Linked DNA regions of Homo sapiens. The protein of the gene in region 1 purifies or fractionates together with the protein of each later gene. This does not show direct contact. Each region holds a gene or a part of one and is shown on either strand. Other genes may lie near its edges.

Region 1 (3,754 bases):
AGAATTCCGACAGGCCTTTGAGGAATTGGTTTTGGAGGCGGCAGTCATCCCAAGACAAGAATTGGGCCAGGAACTGAAAAGCATCTGCATAGCTGCCGAGGGTACAGTGGCCCTGCTTGAGCTTGCGAATGGCCTTTTTAGCCACACGTGGGGGGATGGGGCCACAGAATTCCTTACGGATTTCATCCAGGAAGCGCGGGAAGTTGGCATGCAAGGGGCTTCCTTCCTGGGTGACCGAGATGGCCCAGTCCTTGGCTTCGCCAGTGAAAAAGGAGATCAGAAAGGCCACCCGCTCGGCGCCCCCGGGGAAATGAACCTCATGGTCGGCTATGAAGGTCTCTAGCTGCATCAGGAATTCAGCCAGGTAGACTGGGTCTCCTGAAAAGGGCTCTATCTCAGGCCGCTCCAGCGGTGCCAGAGGGGGTTGCGGGGGCGGTTCCTTTGACGCGGGCGGAGGCAGCGCCGGCGGGGGCGGGATGGGCAGCAGAGGGGGGTCAGCGGGCCCGTCGGGGGTGCTGCGATCCTGGATCACGTTAATCAAAAGATCATCCGAGATACAGTCGGGCTCCGCGCGTGGGGGAGGCCGGCACAAGAAGGGCAGTTCTCCCCCGGGAATGACTTCGATCTCACTGAGCGCGAACTCCAAGTTCTCCTCCGCAAGGACGGGCACTATGGGTACTGGCCAGCGGATGTAGCTGGAGACATTGCCCCGCAAGGAATTAACCTCGGCCAGGGCTCTCCCGAGCTGGAGGCCCAAATTGGCATTCTCCCCGCGAAGGGCATTTAATTCTTCGCGCAGGGCCACATTCGCCATGCGGAGGCTGTTGAGATTTCCTGACGCCTCAGACATCTCGACAAGCCCAGGGGCCCTGGGGCTCCGTGGTGGGGAAAGGGGAACTGGAACTACGGGCGGCCGGAGGAGGCCGAAATGCGGCGGCGGGGCTCGGGAGGGACCGAAGTGCGGCAGCGGGGCACGGGCCAGGCCGGGCCACACCCACCGGGGCGAGCTCGGAGGGCGGCGCTCTGGGCGGAGGGCCCGGCGGCTCGGCCCAGGGCGCGTTACCTCGTCGCCGGGGCCGGAGAGGGCGGGCGGAGGCACGGGGCCCGGAGGCGCCAGGCGGAGGATGCGGGCGACACGGTGGCGGCGGCGACCGCGCGACCGGGCGGGCGGGCGGGCAGGGGCGAGCGGAGCGGGAGGGAGCGGACTGCGGCAGGATCTGTCGAGGAAAAATCTTGCGGCCGGCGATTCCCCGCCTTTTAAGCGCAGCCTCGCACTCCCCCCACCCCACGCAGGGGCGGGCCTTGGGGAACCGCGGGCGCCCACTGGCCGCCGCGCGCCGCTCCCCTCCAGCTCGCCTGCGCCTCTCACTGACTCTCTCCTTCCCTAGCTGCAGCTAACTCGGGTCGGGAAAATGCGACAGCGACTGCCCACTCGAGGTCGTCATGGCGACAGCCAGTGAACGTGTTCCTCTCCTCGGGCAGGCCCCCGAGTGTAGAGGAGCTGCTTCGGGAGGCGCAGCTCAATCTCCAGAGCCTGTTGCAAGGTACCGAGAGGGAGGGGGGCTGCGGCCGGAGCCCAGAAGCGAGATGCGCAGCGGCAGGAGGGAGGCAAAGAAGAAAGAGGACAGGGACCAGCAAGATAAAGACAGAGAGTTTAAAAACAATCGACAAAGCAGTTTCCAGCTTTCACCTTTCAGCCTAATGATTCTGAAAGAGGCTATTTCCAGGGCTGTTTCCCCCCATCCCCAGCCCCTTTTTTCAGCTCAGTAGCCCATGGGGAAACAAGGACAGAGACTGAGGCAGGGCCATAAGTTATGCCATTCACCGAGAGCTGGGTGGGAGACTCCCACAATGTGGGCCTACATTCCCTCCAGCCCCCCTCTTGCCACATCGCCCATGCCTTTGGGATCCTGGCACCAGAAGACAAAGGGGGCATCTGCAGGATCTCCCACTCTGGGCTTCACTCACTCTGCTCTTGCAATAACCCCTGGATAGCTACTGCCTCACCAAAGTAAGCCCAATACACAGCACCCAGAGGTCACCTATTTTGTCCCCCCTAACCAAGCCTGAGCTTCTCGATGTAAAGAATCACATCTTGCTACCCTTAGGTTTCCAGAAGCACCTGGCACAAGGCTGGATTCCCTCCCCACCTGCCAAGAGGTGCTCAGTGGATGTTGAGCATGAAAAGAGGTCTTGTCAGCACTCCTTTATCTATACTAATAAAGGTTAACTCTAATGGCGAATAGAAAACTGCTGATGGGCCACCAACAGGATGACAGCCATAACCCCCACCCCCTACCAGGGCAGTGGTGACCTTGGAAAAGCAAGATGCCAAGGGACACCATGAGCCTTGTGTTCAGATAACAAAGGACTTGCCACACAGAAAAAGAGTCGATGTGCTCTGTGTTGCTACCATGGCAGAATTAGGACCAGTGGGTGGAAACCCAGAAGGAGGCACATTCCACCTCCAGATAAGGAAGAACTTTCTGACACACCTGACAGCCCCAACTGTCCGTGGAAGAAATGAGCTGCCTTGGGAGGGAGGGAGCTCCCCTTCCCTGCAGGTGTGTGCGCTGAGGCTGAAGAAACACCTAGAAGGGCTGCTGAGGAGGGAGTCTGGGCACAGAATGAGGCGTTGGACCAAAGAACCCCAAGAGCAACCCCAAATCTCTGTGATTCTGAGTCTTTGTTCAGTGTACATACAGCATGAATGTCCCTTCTCTACTCTCACTTTCTTCATGTATTCTCATCAAATTCATCACTTCAATCAACCCTATTCAAATCTTGTGCATCCTTACTCACTGATGATGCCGCTGAACTTCTGCCTCTTTTATGCTGTTACCTCCTCCTTCCCTCTCCTTCACCTTAGCCCTCCTAGACCTGACATCACTTACAGCGGGACTAAGGTGCAGGGAACACGGCCCACAAAGGCTCAAGTAAAAGTTCTTGACATCCAAGAAAGAACTCCAGATTGGACTTCCTGGTGTAAATCTCTTCTTGCTTCACACAGGTCATTTCCTTGGTAGGGTCGCAGAAAACCTTAAGAGCTGCAGGGCTTCAAAGAGAGGAACTTGCAGTCCAAAGTAGCAAAAGGTGTCTGCATTCTGAGCCTCTTTTCGTAACTGAGCACTCAAGGTGGGGATCATTGAGATAAGGGCTTGGTCCCCAAACCACCACAGCATGAATTTATTGACTTTCTCTTCTCCTCGATCCTCATGGTCCTGGGAAGCAAGCACTTTTCCATTTCCAAATCCAGTGGCTCAAACACCTGGAAATAGCCTAAAGAAAATGCAAGTCAGGCCTGGCAGCTAGAGCAGGAGTCCTGGCTCATGGCCCTTCCCCGGCCCAGCGCTCGGCCATGGCACCCTAGAGTGTGTGTCTCCACTGTGCTATTTTTCAGAAGAATATGAGGAACAGTACTCGGAGGCCAGACTTGTGGGGCAGACCTTCCGCTCTTCTGATGAGGCCACTAAGCCCACCCCCAACCCAAGGCCCCAGTCTGCCAGGCGTCTGGAGTTTATATTGATGGTGAGTTGCCTCATCCCCCACCTGGGAGAGCCAGCATGCACCCACTGACAAGAGACCTCCAGCTGCTTACTTTACCCACTGGAAGCTGCTCAGCCCTGCTCACCAGCAGAGCTACCCTGAGGCCCCACTGGGATAGGCCCTGCACAGCAGGTGCCTGGCCTGGTGGCCTGTCCACGCTTTCCTGCCTCCCAGACGAAGCCTCCAACTACCCAGCCTAAACAGCCAC
Region 2 (3,754 bases), on another chromosome or scaffold:
ATGTTTGGGCCATTAGCCCTTTTCTATTCAATCAGTCTCATCCACCCCATTCACCCCAAACTTAAGATAAAAAAATTCTCAAGTGTAGTTTTGAATTTTACCAATATATGAAATTATACATAAAATTACCATATAAAGTAATATTTAACAAATTATATACTCAAAGTATAATTTTCCATTTGTCTTAATTTTAATACGTATTCAACATAAATGAGTACAATATATTTAACCATGTTTGACACTCTTCTTTTATCCCTTTTTAATACAATCACCACAACATAAGAAAATTTAGGTTTCAACTGATGTTAAAGCACATTTCTGTATCTGGTGGTTTTTAAAAAAATTACATATTATATATTTGACATTTTAAAAGACAACAGAAACAAATCCACAGATTACTCCACCTTTACCCCCACTTTCAGCTGAAAGGTTTTAAGAAAAATCTTGCAGGTTATGAGGACCAGATGGAGCTTAAAAACAGATCCGGAACTTTTTTTTTGAAATTGTATTTACTTTTTTTTTTTGTATCTCAAGAATACTTAAAGGAAAAAAAAAAGGGTTCTATGAGCCAGAGGAATTCCCAATTCACTTTGAAATTACCATACCTATCTTGCCATATCAAACATTTCAATTCTGTTAACTAAATGAACTACATAATATCCTTAAAAATCAGCCAGAGAAGAGAAAAACAAATCTCGTCTTCATTATTGACTTTGAACCAAAACTTATTCTTTCAAAGGAGTAGTTTAACCTACTAAATATGTCTATTATAAGATCTTCTTTCTTAGAAAGTAGTATTCCTTCTTTTTCATTCCTGAAATGGTATTTCTTACACTTAAACAAGTTATGGACAATTGTTAGCTAAGTATCAGTTATGATAAATTGCTAAAATTAAATTATCTGTTTAAGGTACATATAACACATTCCTATAGCCTTTAAAACTGTATTTTCTTTCACAAAAATTTAAATAAATGTGAAAGTAGGCAATCACTAGAAGTCTCATGGTACATAAACTTTGCATCAACTTTGACGCCAAATAAGGATGAAATTTAGCGTACAAATCCTCCGTTCACAAAACAGTGGCAAAAATTTATATTTTTAAATTGGTATAATTTTATGCATTCTCAAACATTTACTGGGAATATTCAAGTTTACCTAATTAATCACCCAGAAAGCCAGCAGTACTGCCAAAAGCTCTTGGTATATTCAGTAGTCACTGTGAAAACTTTTCATTTCTTTACCATTTGGCAATGGCTCAGTTTCTATTTTCCAATTATGTTTTGGAATAAAGTCTATGACCATTAACTATGCATTTTTTGTTGCTATCTCATAGCCCGTGCACTGTACATATTTACAGAGAAAAAAATAAAGGATTGAATTTTCTGTCCATTCATTCATTCACTTATTTGACCATTTGGAGCCATGTAAGAAGCTCACAGACTCAGAAACTCTTCAGCTCTTCCTCAGACTCAAATCACTGTTGGTCACTAATGCTGACAAAGAAGTACTTTCCGACGCATCATCTTTCCTTAGGTTCAAAAATGATTCTCGAGTTATTTGAAGGATCTCTCTCAAGCCTTTGTTTTCTTGCTAAAAGGCAAGCAAAAACAAAGATGCAGTCACTATCTACAAGGTAGCTACAACATCACAAACATATGTTAGGAAAAACTGAACATATGAAGGTATAACAAACAAGCAAGGTCTGTAATTGGCATTAATCTACTCAATGATATATGCAGTTGGCAACTTGAATCTAAAGAACACTTATGCAGCTAGGAATCGTGTTCAACATCTTCCACCACTGCAAAGCCTTCTTACTTAAGCAGCTATAATTGTAAACAGAAGCTCAGAAATTGCCTTATTTTACAATCACATTAGAGATGAAGAAAATAACATCTAGATTTATTTTTATATAAACTCGTAAAGCCAGTGAATAGGCTAGAATCTCCTAGTAATTTTTAGTATTTTTATTACTTTCCATGATAGCATGGAATGTAGGACAAGTTTAGCTCATTGGCATTTGAGAGCAGCAGGGTAGGGGTAGCTGATGATATTTTTCAAGAAGGAAAGTAAGTGACCAAATCTGGCACTGGTAAATAACTTTGCTTTCTGGCCTCCTTTTGGTTAGTTACTGTAAAAAAATTTGTAGACATTTAACAATAACCTTTCATAATTTGTTCTCTATCACTTTATCTTCAGTCTCACTTTCTAAATTTTAGTAGTCTAAAGCAGGTTCCCCGCCGTGATTTCAAAATGAAGCTCTTAAGGCATAAAAGTCTATTGTACTGATTTCAGTTATTCAGAGACTGGTACTTTCACTGTCATAAAATAAAGGACAGATGACAAAGGTTTTTAGAATCCCCAGAAAAATAAGAGTGCCCCTAAATATTTGTGGATTAAAAAAAATTTCCCTGTATCACTATGATCTCTAATAGAATAAACAAAATTTTAAAAATGACTCAATTGAAGAAGTACATTCACTTCATAAGATAAGCAATATAGAATGAAACATCAATTTTCTACATTACTGGTATATTGTAAGTTACTAATAATCCTAGATTCTTGCATCACCACATAAATGGTCTTGCATAATATGCCCACATAGACAGCATCCAGGAGAACATTACCAGTACCCAAGAAGAGTAAATATATATTTAAAAATGGGATATATTTTCTGGCATAAATCTTTATATGGACAGTTTTCATCTACATTTGCAATGTAAAACTTACTTCAAGTTGAAATATTCGTTCTTGTTCCTTGCAACCCTGTTGCTCGTCAATTTCAATGGCTTTCCTCATTACTGCTGCCATTTCAGTTATCTGGTCAACATGTGCTTGCAGTTCCTGAAAAAGAGGGATGGGAGTTGGAAATCAGCAAAATACTTTTTTATTTTTGGATCCTCTCCTTTTTATAAAATCTGCAGTACCACTTAACATGAATATTCTTACATTGTCACTTAATATGAATAAAACAAATATTAACAATGAAGTTGGTTGACCACAGATGTGCTTTTGAAATCAAATTTGTTAGGACTAGAATTAAGAATAAGCAGCACAATATAACTAAACCTAGCAGCAAGAAAAATACTCATATTTTACATTCCTCTCACCACAATGATCAGCAACTTTTTCTTTTTTTTTGCACTTACATACACTATTGTTCAAAGTAACGGGAATGATAAAAATTGCCGACGCATTCAATCTCTTTTCCTCCCTGAAGTCTTCAATGATTTAGAAATCTTTTCTGTATTGTTCAGGCCTATAAAGTTATCTCAATCCAATCTGTAACCTTTTCTAGGTCATAATCCTCTTTGAGAGCAGGAACTGCATCTTTACATCCACCTACTATCTAGTGTATGGTATATGGTAAGTATTGAATAAAATGAGCACAATTCTGCTTTTCAGTATTAAAATATTAAATGGCCTTCTTTGCTAACTATTGAAAATATAGTATCAGTATAATACAGACATCCACATTTGTTAGGCGCAGCAAGTAGCATAAATTCTTCCAATCTCATTTTCTTATCTTGCACACCTATGATGTGCCAGTACTATGCTAAACAACAGGAATACAAAGACTGTCAAGACATGTCCCCTGATCTGAAGAAGCTTACAGTCTAGTGAAAGAGACAGACAAAAAAGGTTTAAAATCAACAGAAACTCGAGAATAATCATTTTCTCAATGAACAGCTTCTATAGACCATTATTCACAGCAACTGAGAGGTATTTTATCATATTAAGCCTAAGACTTAAA

What was found. Proteins that work in one complex are often made in the same cells at the same time.
Region 2: the proteins of NHSL2 (region 1) and FGFR1OP2 purify together in Homo sapiens (affinity purification with mass spectrometry; 2 studies listed by BioGRID and IntAct, with this or other methods). This does not show direct contact.

What each region holds. Positions count from the first base shown.
Region 1 is NC_000023.11:72,130,691-72,134,444, forward strand, and holds part of NHSL2 (NHS-like protein 2), read left to right. Parts: coding exon of another isoform or gene 1-850; exon of another isoform or gene 851-1,225; intron 1,226-1,388; coding exon 1,389-1,544; intron 1,545-3,400; coding exon 3,401-3,528; intron 3,529-3,754. Other genes in the region: RTL5 (retrotransposon Gag-like protein 5), read right to left, coding at 1-850.
Region 2 is NC_000012.12:26,962,432-26,966,185, reverse strand, and holds part of FGFR1OP2 (FGFR1 oncogene partner 2), read right to left. Parts: intron 2,845-3,754; coding exon 2,731-2,844; intron 1,591-2,730; coding exon 1,453-1,590; 3' UTR 1-1,452. UniProt on the Homo sapiens protein: May be involved in wound healing pathway.